Linked DNA regions of Homo sapiens: all the other regions are linked to region 3. Evidence: fine-mapped expression QTL. A gene starts in region 3. Each other region holds a variant in brackets. All regions are shown on one strand. Distances are from middle to middle.

The links. PIP is the estimated chance that this variant, and not a neighbour inherited with it, causes the effect.
Region 1: its variant is the best candidate, but not a certain one, in a credible set for the expression of RBAK in whole blood (TOPMed, PIP 0.54).
Region 2: its variant is the best candidate, but not a certain one, in a credible set for the expression of RBAK in nucleus accumbens (GTEx, PIP 0.53).

The regions. Positions count from the first base shown.
Region 1 is chr7:5,064,955-5,069,194 of GRCh38, reverse strand. The region is part of intron 4 of RBAK-RBAKDN (RBAK-RBAKDN readthrough); the gene reads right to left. It overlaps RBAK (RB associated KRAB zinc finger), which reads right to left. Exons shown (of 5, transcript NM_021163.4): 5 at 1-4,240. The coding sequence ends at 3,594. Among named protein-coding and RNA genes, the nearest start is that of RBAKDN, 5.0 kb to the left of the region's middle. The variant A/G (reference allele first, on the strand shown) is at 2,604.
Region 2 is chr7:4,982,628-4,986,867 of GRCh38, reverse strand. It overlaps the pseudogene RNF216P1. Among named protein-coding and RNA genes, the nearest start is that of MMD2, 26 kb to the right of the region's middle. The variant C/T (reference allele first, on the strand shown) is at 1,959.
Region 3 is chr7:5,044,059-5,048,298 of GRCh38, reverse strand. It overlaps RBAK (RB associated KRAB zinc finger), which reads right to left and starts at 2,439. Exons shown (of 5, transcript NM_021163.4): 1 at 1,903-2,439; 2 at 208-266. The coding sequence starts at 222. RBAK-RBAKDN (RBAK-RBAKDN readthrough) reads right to left here and starts at 2,439. Exons shown (of 6, transcript NM_001204513.3): 1 at 2,341-2,439; 2 at 208-266. The coding sequence starts at 222. RefSeq lists an enhancer at 1,830-1,939 and a silencer at 2,090-2,299.

The DNA of each region.
Region 1 (4,240 bases), 21 kb before region 3:
GATGAGCGACACAAATGTTAGCCATTTGTGATTTTAGAAAACTTTTATGGAAAGTTTAACACACATGCAGAAAAATACACATATCTTAAGTGCACAGCTCAAAACACACTCAAATACTTAGCACCTAGGTTTAGAAACAGATTATTCCCAGCACCAGATAAATGCCCCCTTTCAGCCTTGGCCAAGGCTAACTGCTACCCTAATTTTAAACCACGTATACAAGTTTTGCCCGTCTTTATAATTTATATAGAAGGAATCATACAGCATGTTGGCTTTTGTGTCTGGAGTCTTTCATTCAGCAAGGTTTGTTAAATTCAGCTGCGTTATTACACGGACTTCTAGTTCATTCATGCTCACTGTTTTACAGTATTCCATGGACATATGCCACTTCTTTATTCATTCCATTGCACATGTGCCTTAAGATAGTTCTGTTTTGTGCAGTTTTAGGCTATAAATATTCTAGTGCATGTCCTTTGGTGGACAGACACATGCATTTTTGCTGGGTTTGGGTAAAACAGTATACATATGCTTGGCTTTTAGTGCCAGCTTTCAAAATGGTTTTATCGATGAGCAATTCCACCAGTAGTGTACAGTTCCTCTTGCTTACATCCTTGCCAAAACGTGATGCTTTTTCATGCTTTTCATTTTAACCATTTCCATGGATGGGTAGCAGTGCTACATGTTTTAAGTTTGCATTTCCCTGATTACTAATAAAGCTAACACATCTTTTCATGCTTATTGGCCGTCTGGATATCCTCTAAAGTGAGTGGATATCCTCTAAAGTCTTTTGCCTTTTCCAGTTTCCCCCTTGTTGATTTGTAGGTGCTCTTTACATATTCGAGATCAGGGACCAGAAAACTATGAGTGCAGACCAAATCCAGACTGCCACCTGGGATTGTGAATGGTTTTACTGGGAAGCAGCCATGCTCATTTTTTTTTTAATGCATGGTGTATGGATGCTTTCACACAATAGCAAAGATGAGCAGTTGTGACAAAGCTGAAAATTTTCACCATCTGGTGCCTTGCTTTATAAAGTTTGCCAACACTTCTGCTATACTCGGTGCTGTTGTCACATACATGAACTGCAAATATCTTCTCCTCCCCATGATTTCCTGTTCATTTTCTTACTGGTGGTCTTTCTGATAAATAGAAGTTCTCAAATTTAATATTAAGTTCTAATTTTATGGGTTAATGCTTTTTGGGTCTCAATAAACCTTTGCTTACTCCAAGATTACAAACTGTCCTAAGATTTCTTTGTAAAGCTTTCACATTTCATATTCAGATCTGCAATCCACCTCCAAATAACTTTTTATCAAATTACAAAATTTTATTGGCAAAGTACATTTACTGGAAAGAACACCCTTTCCCCCACTACACTTCAATGTCACCTTTCTCAAAACTCAGGTGATGGTATACACGTGGGTCTACTTTTGAATCTGTATGCTGTTCCACTAGTCAGTTTTTTCATCCTTGTGCCAAATTAACACCTTCATTATTTCTATGGCTTTATAACAGGTCTTGATATTTAGAAATTTCAATCCTCTCTGTCCATTCTACAGGATAGCCTTGACAATTATTCGACTTTTGAATATGCATATGAATTCTAGAATTAGCTTGTTAATTTACATTAAAGAACTTGCTAGGATTTTAAGGTTGCAATGAATTTAGGAAAAAGCAATAGTTTTGAGATTGTCCTGGAATCCTATCCCTCTCCTCCTTTGTAATTTTATTTTCTGGATACAGTTCTTCAAAGCATATTAACTCATTTTCTCCCTCTAGGCACTTGAGGGATCTTTGAAGTGGCATTGCTTTTCAAAATTTCATTTTCCATGTTTTTTGCTGGTATATCATAAAATGCTTTTTGCATAACTTTTATGCAGGGAACTTACCAAATTTACTCATGGCATCTGCAAATAGAGATTTATATTCTTTTTCGTTTTTAAAGTTTTACTTCTTTTCTAATCTCTATGCCTTTTGTTTCTCTTCCTTGCATTAGTTTTCTGGTTAGGTCCTTCTGAACAATGCCGAATAAAATCATTGACAGCAGATATCCTTGTCTTATTTTTATAATCTTAGGAGAAATGTTCACTATTTCATCATTAAGCATATTGTTTGTTGTAGTTTAAGTCTCTTTATGCAGTTAAGTAAGTCCCTTTCAATCCATCATTTGCTAAGATCATAAACGAACATTAATTGTACCACAAGAATGTTCTGCATGCCAGATTACTTTTCTACAGGTGGTGTATAATAGCAACTGACTTGTGAATATTAAGCCACCTTTGCATTCCTGGAACACAATCTATTTGATTACCATTTTACCTTTTCCCAGAACAAGTCCATCTTTGTTTTGTTTACCCAGTATCAGGTCATATGACCACTATAAAACAAGTTACTGGCAAAGAGAATGAAATCATTATTATTTTGACTAATCAGGATTCCCCTGTGTCATGTGAAGAAGTGGTAGGTACCTAAACTGTTCCAGCAAGAAATGGAGCGAGGACATTAAGTTAATTGATCAAAAAATATCTGCTAGAAACTTGAATCAATTTGTTCTGAAATACTGGGAAAAAGGAGAATGCACAAAACAATGACACTGTATTTGT[A/G]CCAAACAGAAGTTTGTGAATAAAATTTCTAAATTACAAAATATTGGCACTAGGCACACTCAAACCTATGGGTTAAAAAACAAGGGTGGTGTGAGAGCTGGGGATATTTTAGAGTATGGGCAGTATGCTTGTTCTCTTTCACTGAAATAGACTTAAACAATTCCAAATTATGTATGTATAGTTTATCAAAATAGTCTTTTAGAAAATCTTATCTTACTCAGATGCAGTTGAAAACTTTACAAAACGACTGCCTCCTGTACTAATGAGGCATTTGTTAAAAACCCATTTGTAAATTCCTCTAAATAGAAAACTAGGTATTTTACCATTTTATACCTATTAAATATTATCTCACCAACAATATGTCCTGTCTTAATACATTTTGCCATCCTAATACTCAAATAAGAAAACTGCCTCTTCACAAGTCATCCAATTCCAAACTTGCATAGAATTACCATTAGATTGCATTTTTAAGACATGATAAAAAACGGCCATATACTTATTTAATGCTACTGTCCTCATGATCAACTCCTGACAATTTAAAAACTTCATTTTATACAATGAAGATTTATTCAGAGCTCATAGCCTCTGAGATCTTTCCTGTAAACACCTGATTTTCCATTAGAAATATGGCTTTTACAACAAATTTCCAAGACAATATATTTTCCACATTCACCATATTGACAGATTTTGCCTTTGTATGATTCCCTGATATGTAAATACAATTTGAATCCAAAATAAATATTAAATATTTATAAAACTTCACTCCTATATAAATTAGTGTCCGATGAGTCGTATGATCTTGCTGAAGGCTTTGCTTCTTGTTACATTCTTCGGGATTCTTCTCTGTGAAAATTTGGATTAAAATGACTCTAATGCCTAAATGCTTCTCACCGTTCAGGAACACGAACTCTCAGATAAACGCTTTGACTTCCTATTGGATTCCCCATATTCATTATATTCAGAGAGTTTTCTAAAAATTGAGATCTGACTTCAGAGATTTTCCACATCAAGTACGTTCATATTTCCTCTTCTATGAATTCTCTGATGGCTATTGAAGGCTGATCTGTGGTGGAATTTTTTCCCACACTCGTTACATTCATAGGGTTTCTCTCCTGAATGAGTTCTATAGTGTACAGTGAGGTATGACTTCTGAGAAAAGACTTTCCCACATTCATTACATTCATAGGGTTTCTCTCCTGAATGGCTTCTGTAGTGGACAGTGAGGTTTGACATCCGAGAGAAGACTTTTCCACATTTACTACATTCATAGGGTTTCTCTCCTGAATGAATTCGATGATGTATAGTGAGATATGATTTCTGAGAGAAGAATTTTCCACATTCGTAACATTCATAGGGTTTCTCGCCTGTGTGTACTCTTTGATGTCTGAAGAGGGATGAATTATGGGAAAAGGTTTTCCCACATTCGCTACATCCATAAGGTTTCTCTTCTGAATGACTTCTATAATGTTCAGTATAGTATGACAACTCATTGAATAACTTTCCACATACATTACATTCATAGGATTTCTCCCCTTTTGGAAGTGGCTGGTGCCCATCGAAGGCTGAATTTACAAGGAAGGTTTTCCCACATTCATTACATTCATAGGGTTTCTCTTCTAAATGAGCTGTATGATGGT
Region 2 (4,240 bases), 61 kb after region 3:
CATGGGAAGCTGAGGCAGGAGGATGGCTTGAGCCCAGAAGGTCAAGGTTGCAATAAGCCATGATTGGGCCACTGTACTCCAGCCTGGGTGACAGAGAGAGACCCTGTTTCTAAACAAGAATAACCATGATGATGATGATGATGATAATACGGACGCTCCAGTCTCTCAACTTCCTCCTTCCTGTCTGCCTGCCTCCTCCGCTTGGTCTTTACATGTCAGGAGTCCTCTCTTCTCACCTGGTATCTCTGGGTACCTCATCCTGGCTGGTGAGATTTTCCATATGCTGATGACTCTCAAAGTCCTATCACCATAAAACCCAAGGAGATTTAAAAAAAAAATCCTATCTACAGTCTGTATTTTCCAAACTTTCTAGTCCATTCAACCTCCCAATGAATTATTTTTACTCAGATGTCTCACAGGCCCTTCTCAGCACATTGGCAACCAACGTTTCCCAGACTGATTTCATGATTATTTCTCTCCAAAGCAGATGTTTATACTAGTTCTCACCCCAATAAATGATACTAACATCTTCCACGACCCCTTTCACCAAACTCCTATGTGGGTCTGTGATTAAATGTCCCTTGCTCAGGGAGGCCCTTGTGGAGACCCTTGGTCTACCTTAGGTTGCCTCCTGTTTTACCCTTTCAAAGCCTATTTTTCTTTCAGTCTTTTTTTGGCCGGGTGCAGTGGCTCACGAGGTTATCCCAGCACTTTGGGACGCTGAGGCAGGCAGATCATCTGAGGTCAGGAGTTGCTGACCAGCCTGGCCAACATGGTGAAACCCCATCTTTACTAAAAATACAAAAATCAGCCAGGCGTGGTGGTGAGCATCTATAGTCCCAGCTACTCAGGAGGCTGAGGCAGGAGAATCGCTTGAACTGGGGAGGCAGAGGCTGCAGTGAGCTGAGATCACGCCATTGCACTCCAGCCTGGGCGACAGAGCGAGACTCCATTTCAAAAAAAAAAAAAAAAAAGGTGGAAGGGGCTTGGCCTAGACCTCAGCATAAGCCACAGTCCTTGGCTTGGTTCTTCCCTTCCTACAGGTAAGACCCAATGAGTATTTTAACCACTACGATAACTCCACGTTTGTCCTTTGGACAAAAGAAACATCACTGTGTTGCTGAGAATCACAAGAATTTCAGTAGAATAGAATTTAATGGCAGTAAGAGCGACCAAGAGGAGTAAGCCAAGGTCTCTGCTGGTGCGTGCGCTCCTGTTCTGGCCACAGCTACAAAGCATGCACCGTGTGCTGTCCTTCATGGAAGACGCCTGTGTTACCCACCACAAACCAGCACCCTCCTCACCCTCAACCAAGGCCTTTAAGTGCCATCTATTTTAGGATCCTGGGGGGAGAACGCTGGGAGCTGTCAGTAGCTGCCCATTCTCTTCTGAGGGGGCACTGCTGTGTTCCCGGACTCTCTACAGACCTTACGTCCTATCACTGATAACTGAGCCACCTGGGGGATGGATGGTTGTGTGACCTGTCCCAAGTCGGAAAGCAAATCAGGAAGGAGCAGGATTAGAACGCATCTCTCATACTCCTGCATTCCACAGTAGAATGTATTACCCTCCATGTTTTTACGGTCAAAGCAGAACTTCTCTACTTCTCATCTATCTATTATTTCTTTTCATTTAGCCCTTCACGATCAGCAAATACCCATCTATTTATCTTCACCCTCATAAATTCCTTAGCAATCATAAACCATCCCAATTTCCACAAGCTGTTCATTCTGTTACCGTGTGAAGATGTAGTCAAGAGGTGTGACCCCAACAGGAAGACCAAGTAGAGTACCTTTCGGGTGATTGCATAGTGTCCTTTGAGCTCGTGCAGGGCCCACATGATGTCCTGACTACTGAGCACTTTGAAGTCGGCCATGAGGAGGTCAGCAGCTTGGATGAAGCAGTGCTGGTCAAGAGGAGTCAATTTAGAATAGTCAAAAAAGTCTTATTTTAGGCAA[C/T]TGAAACGAGACAGAAGCATAAAATCAAAGGCCAGGCAGTACATTTCCCATGTAGGGGAAATCATTTTAAGAATTTATGTGCAGAAAAGAATAACATTTGTTCTAATTACTCTATAAGGAAGTTACCAGCCCTATAAGAGAGATGAGAAAATGGTGGCTCAGAGAGGTTAAACAAACCTGTCTGGAGCCGGCAGACTAGTTTTACTAGTTATAACTAGTAAAGAAGTATAGTTGGGGATTTAAACCAATCTTACAGCCATCTTCTTTCCATACCATATTTACAAACAACTATTTTTTTTCTATTATAGAATACGTAAGAGAGATAGTCAAAGAATCTATGGGGAGTTGGAAGATCAAGCAACACATCTTAATAAAGTTAGTTCTCAACCATACTTTACCATGTAACAAACTAAATGCCAGTTTAGATCACAAATAATGACAATGATTAAAGTTTTTAAAAACCAAACTGTTTACATCTTGATATGAGATCTGGTTAAACAGATGTATAGGATACGCTGTATACAAATCTCACATCAAAAGAAAAAAGATATTCCACTCTGGGTAATGATCTGCATGCTGAAGTACTTACAGGGAAGTGTACTGATGTTTTTGCAATTTACTTTGAAATGCATTATCATGAAATGAAACATAACAAAGATGTGCTGATGGACAGACAGAGGACATATGTATGATAAAGAGGATACAGTAAACTGTTAACTTTTTAGTAGTACCAGTGGTAGGTATACAGGTGATCAACGTAAAATATTTCAATTTTTCTGTAGGTTTGAAAATTTTCATAATAAAATGTTAAGAGTTTTGGCCAATTCTTGTTTTGCTTTAGGAATTTGCTTTGTAGGATTACAGATATGGAGGATTCGTTCAATTCTTTGTGGGAAAAGGAAGATAAGAATTACAAGGAAAGATAGAAGTTAAAGACAGAATTCAAAGTGGCTCAGACTGGGAGATCGCACTGAAGTATAGATATATTCTGAAATCCTATGTCCCTCGGCTAGTCTTTAAAAACTTGTCCCAACAAAGCACCTTCTTCCCACAGAGATAACAACAACAACAACAACAACAACAACAAAGCACAGCATTTCCAGGCAGTGACTGCAAAACATGAACATGACACTTGCCTTTGTCTCATCTTGGCTGGCCAGCAGACTGCTACTGGGATTTATAATGATTCTGTCTTCTCTCTTTGGATAATCTGGGTTTTCCAGAAGAAAATTACAAAGTCTGCAGAAACAAATGATGTTACTTTCATACTGCTTCCAAATCCCACACCTGCCCATTGCTTCAAATGCAATGTCTGAAGAATATAGTCCTTAGTCACACGTTACAACTGGCCTATCAAGAAATTAAGATGTTTGTAGCCCAGAAAAACTAAACAAATAAACAAACAACTGCACTGAATTTCTATCTTTGTGAAAGATAAAAAATTTAAAAAGCAATGAACATACTGATTAAGGCAAACTCCTCTGAAGTTTATGTATCAATTGGGTGTTAATGTATTGAAGTCACTGAAACTATTATTGGTTAAACTACAAAATTGGAAAATTTGAAAGAAAAGTAGCTACTCTTTGTCAAGAAAACTATGAACAAGAAAGAAGTGGAAAACTGTGTGTTCACATTTACAGTAAAAACAGTCTGCTAAGAGATGTAATAAATAAATGAAATATAAAAGACCTTCTGTTAATTCATTAATACTTTTTATACCCCTGTGGTAACATAAATCTCTATGGTAATATAAAGCTCTATGAGCCATTGAGTTACACTTCATTTATTTAGCTAGCTGCTAAGCTAGACTGATGAACAGATCATGTTTTCCTATGAACAGACTCTCTTCACACCAAACCCACTAGCTTTGTCTATTATCAGCATGAAATACTTCCAAAGTAAGGCTATATAGAGTGAGATAACACACACTGATGTATCACCACCCAGACCCAACAGATGTTAACTATCCAGGCTCTTCACAGTCAAATCAGACAACCACCTTGGAACGACTGCACAGTAGTGCAGACAGAGTGGGTGGGGTACAGCTCTAGCCACATTCAGTAGCAAGGAAGCTTCTTTGCTCGGAGGGTAATGGGGACTTCCCCTTTTCTCTGTTCTTTCTCTTGCTCCAGTAGATTTCTAAGATGACCTCCTAGGTGCTATACCTGCAGTTCTCACACACTTCCCTTTCTACTGGTTCTCTTTTGCCAGATGTCAATAGTAAGGCCTGTAATAGTAGAACAGGAGGTCTGGCAGAAAGAGGGCAGAGAAAAAGTGCTCAG
Region 3 (4,240 bases):
CGGGAGGCTGAGGCAGGAGAATCGCTTGAACCCAGGAGGTGGAGGTTGCAGTGAAGCGAGATCATGCCACTGCACTCCAGCCTGGGCAACAGAGCAAGACTCCATCTCAAAAAAAAAGAAAAAAAAAAAGGTAAGAATCCTTACAAACCTCTTAAAATGCATCATAAAATAAAGTTGAGGAACATATACACAAGCATGAAAACTCACCTGCAATGTGTTCATTTTCTGCTGCTCTTGGAAACGTGCAGAGACTGTGGCTGGTAGACCTAGAGGGGGAGAAGCAGGTCACTGAAGTCATGAGTGCTCTGGCCTGCAAAGGCAGGAATCTCCTGCGTAAGAACCACAAAAGAAAGCTCAATAGGCTAACACCCTGTGAACACTCAGCCTGCAAACACTCAGAAGGGCCTAAAAGAGTGATACAGGGTTTCGCCATGTTGGCCAGGCTGGTCTCGAATTCTGGCCTCAAGTGATCCGCCTTCCTTGGCCAATATGGCGAAACCCCATCTCTACTTAAAAATAACAAAAAAATTAGCCAGGCATAGTGTCACATGCCTGTAGTCCCAGCTACTCAGGAGGCTGAGGCACAAGAATCCTTTGAACCTGGGAGGTGGAGGTTGCAGTGAGCCGAGACCACACTGCTGCACTCCAGACTGGGTGAGAGACACTGTCTCAAAAAAAAAAAAAAAAAAAAAAAAAAGAGAGTGAAAAAGAGTGATAGGCGAAGCATGCACTTGTAACTTTGTAACTCTAAGATAATCAGGTAGTAATCAGATGAGTGAGACTCTCATGGGTAACATGACTCCTTTTACAAATAGTCTGCCATCATCAAATACAACCTGCAAAAAGAAAAAAAAAATTCCCATTATACAGCTCATGTTTTTTGTGGTTTGTCTGTTTGTTGAGACAGGGTCTCAATCTGCCACCCAGGCTGGAGTGCAGTGGTGCATTCACAGCTCACTGCAGCCTCGACCTCCTGGCCTCCATTGATCCTCCCACCTCAGCCTCCTGAGTAGCTGGGACCACAGGTGCATCCCAGCATGCCTGGCTACTTTTGTATTTTTTGTAGAGTCAGGGTCTCCCTATGTTGCCTAGGCTGGTCTCTAACTCCTGGTCTCAAGGGATACTCTTGCCTTAGCCCCCGCAAAGTGCTGGGATTACAGGTGTGAGCCACTGCATCCGGCCCGCATTTTCTTATTGTCTCTTTAAACTGCTTAAAATCAAAGAAGCCATAGGAATTGAGTATGTGAGCTCTCAGAAATGAAATGAATGTGTATAAAATATGGTTTTGTTTCTAAATTATCTAACTGAACTTGGTTATTGCTGCACCTAATAATCTTCTATTAAGAAAACTAGGATACGGGAGAAAGAACACTGGCCTGGGAGATAAGACTCCTGAGTTCTACTATGAGCAACTCTACCCACAAAGCCAGTGACCCGGTCAAGTCACCCACCTGCTAAGGCCCAGTCTCTTCCCCTAGCAACTGAGGCAGCAAGAGAGAATCCCTGCAGACTGTTCCTGCATTACTACCAGTCTCCAGGGCAGATCTAAGGGGGGAATCAGCAGACACTTAAATGAGAGAACAGAGGCGCTGACGGACGTTTAGAGGAGGTCGAAATCTGGAGCACGGAAAGGAGGAGGAAGGGCTGTTAGGGGTTAGCGGGGAGTGGAGACGACGTCCGCAGCTGAGGCTGGTGACACCCTCCAGGCCCCCATAAGCCTCGTCCTCCCAGATTTCCCATGCAGCGCCTGTTCGGTGCAGCCGGACCCTGCCCTCAAACCCAAACACACGTCTCTCCTGCAAGCGATCGAGACCCTCCCCCTGCCCCACACTCTAAGGTCCCCAACACACGGTGACTTCACTCAGGCCCTTCTCGCTCCGGGCCCGAAAACCCAAGACCTACCCTTCTGGGGCTCCGCAGCCTCTGCCCCACGGCTCCCGAGAGGCCGGGGCGGGGCTGCTGTCGCTGGCGCGCGTCTGCTCGCGAGGTCCCCTCCTGTCCACCTCACTAAGGTTGTTCTGCTCCCGAGGGGCCCGGGCCGGGCCTAAGGGGCAAATCCAGGCGGGTGTCCTTCCCGGGACCCAGATCCGCCTCCCTCGGGCTCACCGTACAGCGGCAGCCTGGGCCAGGCCGCCAGGACACACACGGGCCAGGCCCGCGTCCCGCCGCCCCTTCGCCTCCGCCGCCACCTCCGCCACCTCCCGTCCGGCCCCTCTGGCCCCAGCGCCGCCGGCTCCGGGGCTCAAGCTCGGGGGTCCCCGCTCAAGCCTCCACCCGGCCCGCGCGAACCCTGGCCTGCACACCCCCGCGCCCGCCTAGGTGCTGGCCCGGGCGCTCAACCTCCAGCCCCGCAGGCTCCGCGATTCTCGTCCACTGGAGGCCAAAGCCTGGGAACTAGAGCAAGCGGTGACCTGAGGACGCACAGGAAGCGAGGGCAGTGCAGCGGCGGCGCGCATGCGCGAACACGCACACAGAGAGAGGTGCACACGCGCAGGAGTGCACCGGAAGTCAGCCTCCGGGGCCCACAGCTGGTCCCAGGACAAGCACCCTACTCTATTTCCCATGAGCCTACGCGCCCCCCAAGTTTAGGGGCCGTTTTAAATGTCTCTACCCTGCCTAAAGGTTAAGAAGCTCCAGGCTATGAGCTTTGGGAGCTCTGAACCCCTGATTGAACTTCGCATTTGTCTTTACTCCCTTTTAGGGTCAAGTCCAGGGCTGCCTGACTGGGTCCTGGAGCCCAAGGCCTCTGGGTTAGAACCGAGTTTCCCATAAAGAGAAGGAAAGGAAAGGGTGTATCGTGGTCACTGCGCTGAAATGCTAAGAGAAGTTTCACTCAAATACTAGGACAGGATAAATGCCCAGCGATGCTTTCCAAGGAAGAGAAAGAAAATAGAATTTGTGGCTGGGCGCGGTGGCTCACGCCTATAAATCCCAGCACTTTGGGAGGCCGAGGCGGGCGGATCGCGAGGTCAAGAGATAGAGACCATCCTGGCCAACATGGTGAAATCCCTTCTCTACCAAAAATACAAAAATTAGCTGGGAGTAGTGGCGTGTGCCTGTAATCCCAGCTACTCGGGGGCTGAGGCAGGAGAATAGTTTGAACTCGGGAGGTGGAGGTTGCAGTGAGCCGAGATCGCGCCCCTGGACTCCAGCCTGGCGACGGAGCGAGACTCTGTAGCTTTTCTAGATCACACAGCGAATGCCTAAAAACTGTAGAGAAATCAGGAAATACACAGATCGAACGAAGAAAAGAGATACCTGTGATCTCACCTTCCCCAGGAGGATTATGTTTAGGGTTAGGTTATGTTGACCAAAAAGACTCAAAGTCTGTCAAGAGTTTTATTCTGGGCCTCCTACTTGAGTGACCATGGCTGGTGACACAGCCTCAGGGGGTCCTGAGAACGTGAGCCCAAAGTGGTTGGGTTACAGCTTGGTTTTATACATCTTAGGGAGACAGCAGTTACAGGCAAAGACATAAATCAATACATGAGAGGTACACATTGGGTCAGCCTGGAAAGGCTTTCAGGTCACTAGCAGATTCAAAGATTGGCAGTTGGTTCAGAGTTAAGCGTTGGCTGAACAGTTGGAAAACGACATGAAGAAATGGGCCATTGCGGTGGCTCATGCCTGTGATCCCAGCATTTTGGGAGGGTGAGCTGGGAGGATCCCTTGAGGCCAGGAGTTGAAGGACAGCCTGGGCAACACAGCGAGACCCCCACCTCTACAAAAAAAAAAATTATCCAGGTGTGGTGGTGCATGCCTGTAGTCCCAGCTACTCAGGAGGCTGAGATGGGAGGATTGCTTGAGCCTGGGAAGTTGAGGCTACAGTGAGCCATGATGGTGCCACTGCACTCCAGCTTGGGCAACAGAGAAGAAAAGAAAGAGAGAAAGAGAGGGAGGAAAAGAGAGAGAGGAAGGAGGGAAGGAAGGAAAAGAAAGAGGGAGGGAAAGAAAAGAAAAGCTTGAGTTAAGATAAGGGGCATTGTGGAAACCAAGGTTCTTGTTATGTAGATGAAGCCTCAGAACAGGCTTCAGAGAGAATAGATGATAAATATCTCTTATTGGATCTTAAAAGGTGTCAGAATCTCCAGAAAAGACTTCTTTTCTGTAAGGGAAGGAGATTCTCTACAGAATGCAAATTTCCCCCAAAGAGATGGCTTTGCAGGACTATTTTAAAGTGTGTCAAAGAAAATATATTATGGGATAAAATACTATGATTTCCTTCAGGGACTGCTATCTG